Linked DNA regions of Homo sapiens: region 2 is linked to region 1. A link means that fine-mapping ties the variant in region 1 to the expression of a gene that starts in the linked region. Tissue or cell type: whole blood. Region 1 holds a variant in brackets; the other region holds the start of a gene. All regions are shown on one strand. Distances are between the middles of the regions.

Region 1 (4,000 bases):
GGAGTACCACAATGATCTTTCTGTACTTAGGATCTTAAAATATTAAGATAATCAGATTCTCCTGCCCATTTCCCTTATTTTATATGTGAAGAAAAACATTTTATCTCAAAATATACATATGTAATGAAAATGTTTCAAAATCAATTAAGACTTTGACATCAACTGGTGATTTATTTGGTACAGACATTCCACTGAAACGACCACTTGGGTTAATATATTCAATTTAGTTATATTCCCTCCTCAATCATCCTAGTACATTAAACTACTAGATACTTAAAAGGGTGTCTATATTTTAGTTTTCAGTGTCTTCTGGGAAAAAAATATCAAATTATTGTTGGATACTAACCTATTAACCATTAGCTAACATATTCAGACACCTTTACCAGTTGCCTTTCTAAAAATGCACCCTTCTTATTTTTGTATTTTAAGAGAATAGTTGTGAGAGAGAGACACGATCTCTGATTATATGCAGGATCATGTTAGAATATATATAAGAATATATGTTAACTTTTCACCCAAAGAAAGGATGTCTTTAAGTCTGTAAATTAATCTAAACTGTGCTGAGACTAACTTTGGTCATGATTAAATCTTTCCAGAACATTTGCCAAAAGATTTTAGAAGCTATACCTGCTCTCAATATTGGCACTCTACTTTTCTTTGATTCTAACTTCACCAACCTGCTCTGGAAGCCCCAAAATGAGTATCTATGTGTCCCTTTTTTTCTAATATGCTTGACTCTATTTTACTTACTGAATTTCTTTTAATACTTCCTATAGACGCCTCTGTAAATTTCTTTAACCATACCAATTTAGAAGTATGGTGATTTAAAAAAAAAAAAAAAAAAGCTTAAAAAAATACTATTTATTTTCATCCTAAATAGTAACTGGTTTTCCATTATGTATATATATAACTTTCCTTATACTCACACTGTCAATACAAAAAAAAAAGATTAGACTTTCACTGAATTTCTCAGTAATAGATAATAAAACAAAAACAGCAGATACCTTTGGTAAATCCATAAAGCTTGGTCGAGCAGTTGAAATAAGTCCAAGTGTTTTTAAAGAGCAATTCACAAGTTGCGATAGTATATCACAAGCTGCTTCAGCTGATTCCTTGCTGCTGTCCACCTTAGAAAAGAAACACCGTTTACTCATGAATATTTTATTATTTTTTTACTTTTTTCCCCAAATACCCAGACTTCAAGATTACTCATGTATATATTTATATTTCTCTGTACACATATTCATTTTATAGAAGTATCATTACTAGTTTATTGCATTATAACTTAAAGAATATTCTTTCAATCATCCACCCTCCACCCTCACCTCCAACTTGGCCTTTTCTAAGTCTCTCTGAAAAAGTATAAGGGCAATTGTCAAGACAAGACCTAGCTTTCATTATGATAAGAGACATATTTAATGTTGGCTTTTACACTGATTTATTCCAAAGTGACTGTATAAACTAATGGAGTAAATCAATTTATAGTCTTTAAAAAATAATTATGTATTTGGTAGTGGATCACATAATAGATGTAAATACAGTGTCTATGGTATGCAATAAAAACTAAGTATTTACTCAAAATGTTCACGTGTATCACAACCTGGGATTCATCATTAATGTTATTAATGGAAAGATGTGAAGTAAAATGAGTGTACTGGACCAGTCAGGCATGAAAATCTAAACTAAATAAGATGTAGCTATTCTCACACATACTTCTGCAAAGACATTTCCTAAGGGAAGGATAAAGGGCCAAAAAATCCCTCAAGGATGTAAAAAGGAGTTCATCCATCAAAAAGTTAGTTGTTTCCTGGGAAGCACCTTAAAACAGTTAAAAGGATATTATTAATTTCCAGATTCATATACAC[T/C]ACTTTATCCCAAAAATGTTAAGAGTGGATTGTAAAACTAATGTGCTAATTATATTAGTTTCAGAGCTACTTATAGATAATATGTGGTCCCTGAGACTAGCAGCATCAACATCACCTGGGAACTTAAATGGGAACAAATGTTCATACCCAACCCAGACCATCTGAATCAGAAACTGTGGGGGTGGGACCAGCAATTTTTGGCTTTACAAGCCCTTCAGGTGATTTTGATGCACATAAAGTTAGAGAACCACTCTTCTAGACTAAAAATTCTAACTATAAGCCTCCTTGGTCTATAATCAGTGAAGACTATCAGGAGAGCCCAGAAGAATCCTGTGATGTGACTCTTTTTTGTAAATCAGAAATTATTTCCTCAGGAAAATTAAAAAAAAAACCCTACTAAAAATGTTCAACTTTTGCACAAATGATTTTATGAGGGTTATACTAGATACACCTGAATTGTATCACAGGGCTATAAAAATGACCCAGCAAATCTACTAGGTGGAACTGGACTTTAAGACCTATCAGAGGAATGTATTTGTATTATACTCATCTTTGTATACAATTTACCATTAGAACACTCTTACACAATTCAAAGATAACTAAAACCAAACAGAAACCTCTTTAGCCTTCTTCCCTGGGGGTATGGGGATGAGTCCTGAATTTTTGTTTGATCCCCCTACCTTTGCCCCCAGTTAGGATCGCAAGATAATATACTAGACACCAATTAAGTTTCAGGTAAACAACAGATATTTTTTAGCATTAAAGATGTCCTAAACATTAAAAGGGATGTAACTATACTAAAAATTATTCATTGATTATCCGAAATTCAAATTTAAATACTCATCTTACATTTTTATTTGTAAAACCTGGCAATCAGTGGCCTAAGCGCCTTTGTGCAGTTTTCTGGGAAAAAAAAGGCAAAAACATATCCAACCATTCCCACCACCAATTCTCTCCTCCTCCTTGGACAGACATGGGAGAATAAGCAGGTAATCTCCACCTAAGAGGAAATTACATTCTTCGAGGGAAGACAAGATTTTAGTTATGGCCAGAAGCTCTGGGTTAAGAACTACTGTTCTGCCTAGGTTTAGCCTGGACTATTCAGCAACTGCTTGTGTCCAGATAAATCAAGTATTCATGCATTGTTTTTTTTTTTCAATAAGTTATTTGCTACCACAAAATCTGGTGTTTAAAGATCCAGTAAACATGTCCATATTTCATTATTCATCACCCAAACAAAACATGACAAGCCTCACACAAACCACTGTGATTTTTTATTTTTTTAAATAGAGACAGGGTCTCGCTCTGTCACCAAGGCTGTAGTACAGCTGCACAATCATAGCTCACCACAACCTCAAACTCCTGGGCTCATGCAATCTTCCCGCCTCAGCCTCCTGAGAAGCTGGGACTATGGGACTACAGGTACCCACATCCAGCTATGATTTCTTAAATTATTCTGGATATCGCAAAAAGCCACCCACTTCATTTATCTCATCACTGCATGATTTCCAATACCTTCCTTCCAGCAACAAAAAGAAATAAACAGTTCCCTTTGGCATTCTCCCATGTACCTTTTTCTATTTCTCTCTAAAATATATTCATCTAAATCTTCTACATAAAGTTTCTATGCTTCCTTTTCATCTGAAGATCCCATTTCAAAAAGCCATCAGTAAGTAACACTAAGTTCCTGTTAGATAGAAATAGCAATTAAGCTCTACTCAATTATAATCTCCCAATTTTTATTTTATTAGATATTTCTTCTTCCTCAAAATCGTTCACAATAATTCAATGTAATTCACAGCTTTATCAATGACTTATGCTTATTTAGTGGCTGCTTTTGCTGTTTTAAGAAATTATTAATAATTAATAGAGTAATTTAGCTCCATCAAATATAATATTTTGTGACAGCTTCTAAGGTATACAATAATTCTAAATTTTTAAGCATTTTCCCTGAAAAAGCAAATATTTTAAAGGCATGAGAAGATGTACTGGTTTAGGAAACAAAGCCACTAAAAATACTTTATTTTTTAAAAGAAGGATTTAAAATATTACCTTGAAGCTGACATATTGTAGATGGTTTGAATGTCTTTTAATAATCTGTTTGATCAGCTCTGGATGGGTAGCTTTCAAATAAG
Region 2 (4,000 bases), 28 kb before region 1:
CAACTGGCACACACTTGTACCCAGCCACTAGGGAGGCTGAGGCAGGAGAATTGCTTGAACCCGGGAGGCGGAGGTTGCAGTGAGCCGAAATCACATCACTGCACTCCAGGCTGGGTGACAGAAGGAGACTCCGTCTCCAAAAAAATAAAAAATAAAAACCAATACTAGGAAGTGCTTTCTTACCATGAAAGCTCCCTGCACACAGAATGAAGAGACAGATGGCAGAAGCAAGACCAGAGGCCTCCACCACTGAACAAGGTCAACCTGAATTTGTTTTTGTAGCTCTGGGAAGTCCTGAACTGAATGGGAGGTTCTACTGTGGCCCTCTACTAACAGTAGATGGAACCTGGAACCATCTACTGTTAATTGTCCTTTTAGTAGCCAAGACATGAAGTACCTATCTCCCTTCTTTGTATTTGGTGAAAAGATTTGAACTCGAGCCATCTCTGCTAAAGGCATGACTTTAGTCACCCCACTGCAGTTGCTTCTCTTTGCCTCCAAGAAAGTCCAATCTGATGGGCAGATTGTGCTTGCAGATGACTGGATTAAACTGCAAATATCTCATGAAGCTGCTGCCTGCATCACCGCTCTCCAGGCAGCCACGGAGGCTCTGGTTGTTGAGGCCATCTACTGTGGCCCTCATACATCATACTGTGTATGGTTCCAGGATTTGTAAATGCTCTAATCAATGTTTTTTTTTTTTTTTAAAGCTGTTCCTGCTGATTGCTTTTTAAGCTAGGCTCAAGTGTGGGGCCACGGAATCCTTCAGGTGCCCTTCAAATCAGACATTACATTTCAGCTCTCAGGGCTAGAATGCTTCCCCCTCTTATCTTGGGCAGGTCTTTGAAGAAGCCAGTTTAGCCTTGGTAATTTTGAATTTGGCCATAGTATACGGAGGAGAGCTAGGTAGCTATCAAAACGCTTAGACAAACGTATGGTAAAATGCAGCCCAGCCTGAACCTCCGCAAAACCCCCAAACCTGGAGCAGCAAGTGGGCAAAGGAGTGTGTGTTTGGGGCAGGGTACTGAGTCCCATATGTAATCAAGAGACCTGGAGGGCCCAAGGAAGTCAGTGACACCCCCACAAGCTACATATCCTCCAATGGATTGTGGTGGTCATCTCCGGCTACCGAAGCCACCTTGCTTATTCCCATAGGCTTACAAACATTATGATGCTTCACACGAGTTGTGGGTGAAGTGAAGGAATTGGAAAGTCCCGGTCTAAGGCCCTGCAAAACTGCTGTCTGGTAAAAACAAGTGACTATGGCAAGGCCCTGAATGTACTACGTATAGACTTAAGTCAGTATTTGTGCCTAACAGCAAAGCATGCCACAAGAGGCTCCTCAAAAGCCGGGTAATTGATGCCATTGTTTTCTTGACCTAGTTGAAGAGTCAAAGAAGAGAAGGTGATGCAGAAACTTCTTTCCAGTGAAGTGACAGATCCAAGCAAGGAACACCTGCCTGTGAGGGGAGCGGTAGGGGAGGGGGTAGATTCGGCAGCACTCGGGTAGTGGCAGGGACCACATATTGTCGGTGTTAACCACTGTTATCACTGGCCCAGGTCGAGTGAGGACGAGTCATTTCCCCACTAAGCACTTGGGGAGTGGCAGGGACCACATATTGTCAGTGTTAACCACTGTTATGACTGGCCCAGGTCGGGTGACGACGAGCCATTTCCGCACTATTGTCCCTTCTTCCTCACTGCACCCCCAGCCCTGCACCCTCAGCTCCAAATACACATTCTCGTTCACTCAACGTTTGTTGACACCTAGCGTGGGCCCTGTGGGATGGGGTAAAAGTTCGGTGTTGGGAGGAGCCCCGGTGACAGATTTTTGGTTTTGGTGGTGGCTTTTGGGCAAGGACAGGTCAATTCATAAAAGATGACGCCCCAGGTCTGGATCGAATTCTCCTGGGAGCCAGACCAAAGCACCTTCCTGGACTGCAAAGTGTGGAAGCCGCCGCGGGCCGGGCGCGGGGAGGTGTCATGCGCCGGAACCTGCGCTTGGGGCCAAGCTCTGGAGCTGACGCGCAGGGGCAAGGCGCCCCGCGTCCCGGACTGGCGGCTCCGCGCATGCTCCTCCCACCGGCGTCGCAGGCCTCGAGAGGCTCCGGAAGTACTGGGTGCAGCCTGATGGCGCAGGAGGTAGACACGGCACAGGGCGCCGAGATGCGGCGGGGCGCGGGCGCGGCTCGGGGACGCGCTTCCTGGTGCTGGGCCCTGGCGCTGCTTTGGCTCGCGGTGGTTCCGGGCTGGTCCCGGGTCTCGGGCATCCCCTCCCGGCGCCACTGGCCGGTGCCCTACAAGTGAGTGCGGCGGCGCGCGCACTGTCGGGGTTGGGGTCGGCGTTGACGATGGGGGATGGGGTGCTGGGGCGGGGACCCCTGCTCACCGTGGTTTGTGTCGGGTCACGAGATGGTGCGGGGACAGCGCCGGGTGACGCTCGGAGCGCACTTGAGAGCAAAGTTGAGGACTGGGGAGTCGCAGCCGCTCGTTACGTGCAGCCCTGGGACCTTTCGTCCCCTCTGGTCACTTGCGGCAGACTCAGGACAGTCCTGAATCGTGGAAGAAGAAAAGGAGAGTAATGTTATTTAATGGAGGGACTTCTGGGTACAAGTAGCTGATTTCTTGAGTAGTTTAAAAACACTGTCTATCGCATTTATTTATATCATGCACTGTCGTTAGTTATTACCGCGGAACATTTGGTACAATTTACTGGGCGACCAACTCGCTCTGGTTTGAACCTGATCAGAACCTGATCCGAAGTCCTTATTGGGACTTCCCAGTTTTGCCCTCAAAAGTCGCGCATCCCGGGAATCCCCGTCTCCTGCAGTCCTGGTTAGACCGGGAAGATTGTCACCGCTTTTGTCCAGTCTTCAGCCTGGAGGTAGGACGCCGGTCCTAAGTCGGGGACAGAGCCCGCACACCTGGGAGGTCGATTCCAGCCTTTGACAGAGAAGACACAGCCTCCGGCGGTCAGAGATAGCTAAACACAGAGAAAGAAAACATGGTGTCAACATCAGGCAGGAGAAAGACCAGCAGTTTTTGAAAACAGCTATTTTTCTTTAAACCAAAAGCATCATTGGACATAATTTTAACTTACTAGCATAAGTAATCAACAGCTAAAACTGCACACAACAAACCTGAAAAAAACAGCTATTTTGTATGACAGTATGAGTGGGAAGGAGTTCTGCCTGCTGCGGGTCAAATCTGGCTCTGTCATCACCAGGGATCTTGGGAAAGTTACTCAGAATCTCTGTGCCCACATGCCCTGAGTCAAAAAATAGGAATAGTGGTAGCACGTACCTCATAGGTTTGCTGGAAGGATTAAATCTAGTAAAATGCCAGCTGTTGTCAAACCTAGATAGTGTATTCTGCTCACTGAAATGTTTACAACACTTTTTTGTTTTGTGTGATATACTACGTGGAAAGAGAAGTTTGTGGTTGAAGCTAGTTTTCTGGAAAATGTTAATAATAAAATGTTTGTAAGAAGTCAAAATTACTCAATAGAACAAGAATTGTAAATCCAAACGATTTGATTTAACATTAGGGCAAGGTGTTGACTATGGCTTTTTAGTGGATTTTTTTTTTAAGTCTCAGATATTAAGTACGTGCTCCCATCTAATTCCCTCAATTGAATATAATATTTAAGTTTATTAAGTTCACACTTAAATTACCTTTGAACTAAAATAGATTTTGCTGTGTCAGTGAAATCTCCATGTGATTATGTATTTGTTTAAACCAGGTAAGTGCCTATAAAACACTGTACCCAAGTAGCAGAAACTTTTGGGAGCGTCGTTAATAGTTTCGATTAGCATAAAGATTTTAACTTCTTAAGTTAAAATAGAAATTTTTGTTGATTTGTTAAGATTTGTTAGATCTGGCTACAACCTTGGGGATCTAGGATTCTTAGATAGAAGCTGTTGTCGCCACCACTTCTTTCTTTCCCAGTGCCAGATTATAGGTGACCAGTGTGTCTGTTGAGCTGAATTCAGCTGCAGTG

Evidence for each region. PIP is the estimated chance that this variant, and not a neighbour inherited with it, causes the effect.
Region 2: CLN5 starts here. The variant in region 1 is fine-mapped to the expression of CLN5 in whole blood (TOPMed, PIP 0.95).

Annotation. Positions count from the first base shown.
Region 1 is chr13:77,017,596-77,021,595 of GRCh38, forward strand. FBXL3 (F-box and leucine rich repeat protein 3) reads right to left here. Exons shown (of 5, transcript NM_012158.4): 2 at 3,918-4,000; 3 at 1,005-1,127. Among named protein-coding and RNA genes, the nearest start is that of FBXL3, 7.6 kb to the right of the region's middle. The variant T/C (reference allele first, on the strand shown) is at 1,866.
Region 2 is chr13:76,989,969-76,993,968 of GRCh38, forward strand. It overlaps CLN5 (CLN5 lysosomal BMP synthase), which reads left to right and starts at 2,113. Exons shown (of 4, transcript NM_006493.4): 1 at 2,113-2,303. The coding sequence starts at 2,131. RefSeq lists silencers at 1,447-1,536, 1,627-1,696, 2,157-2,396 and an enhancer at 2,418-3,617.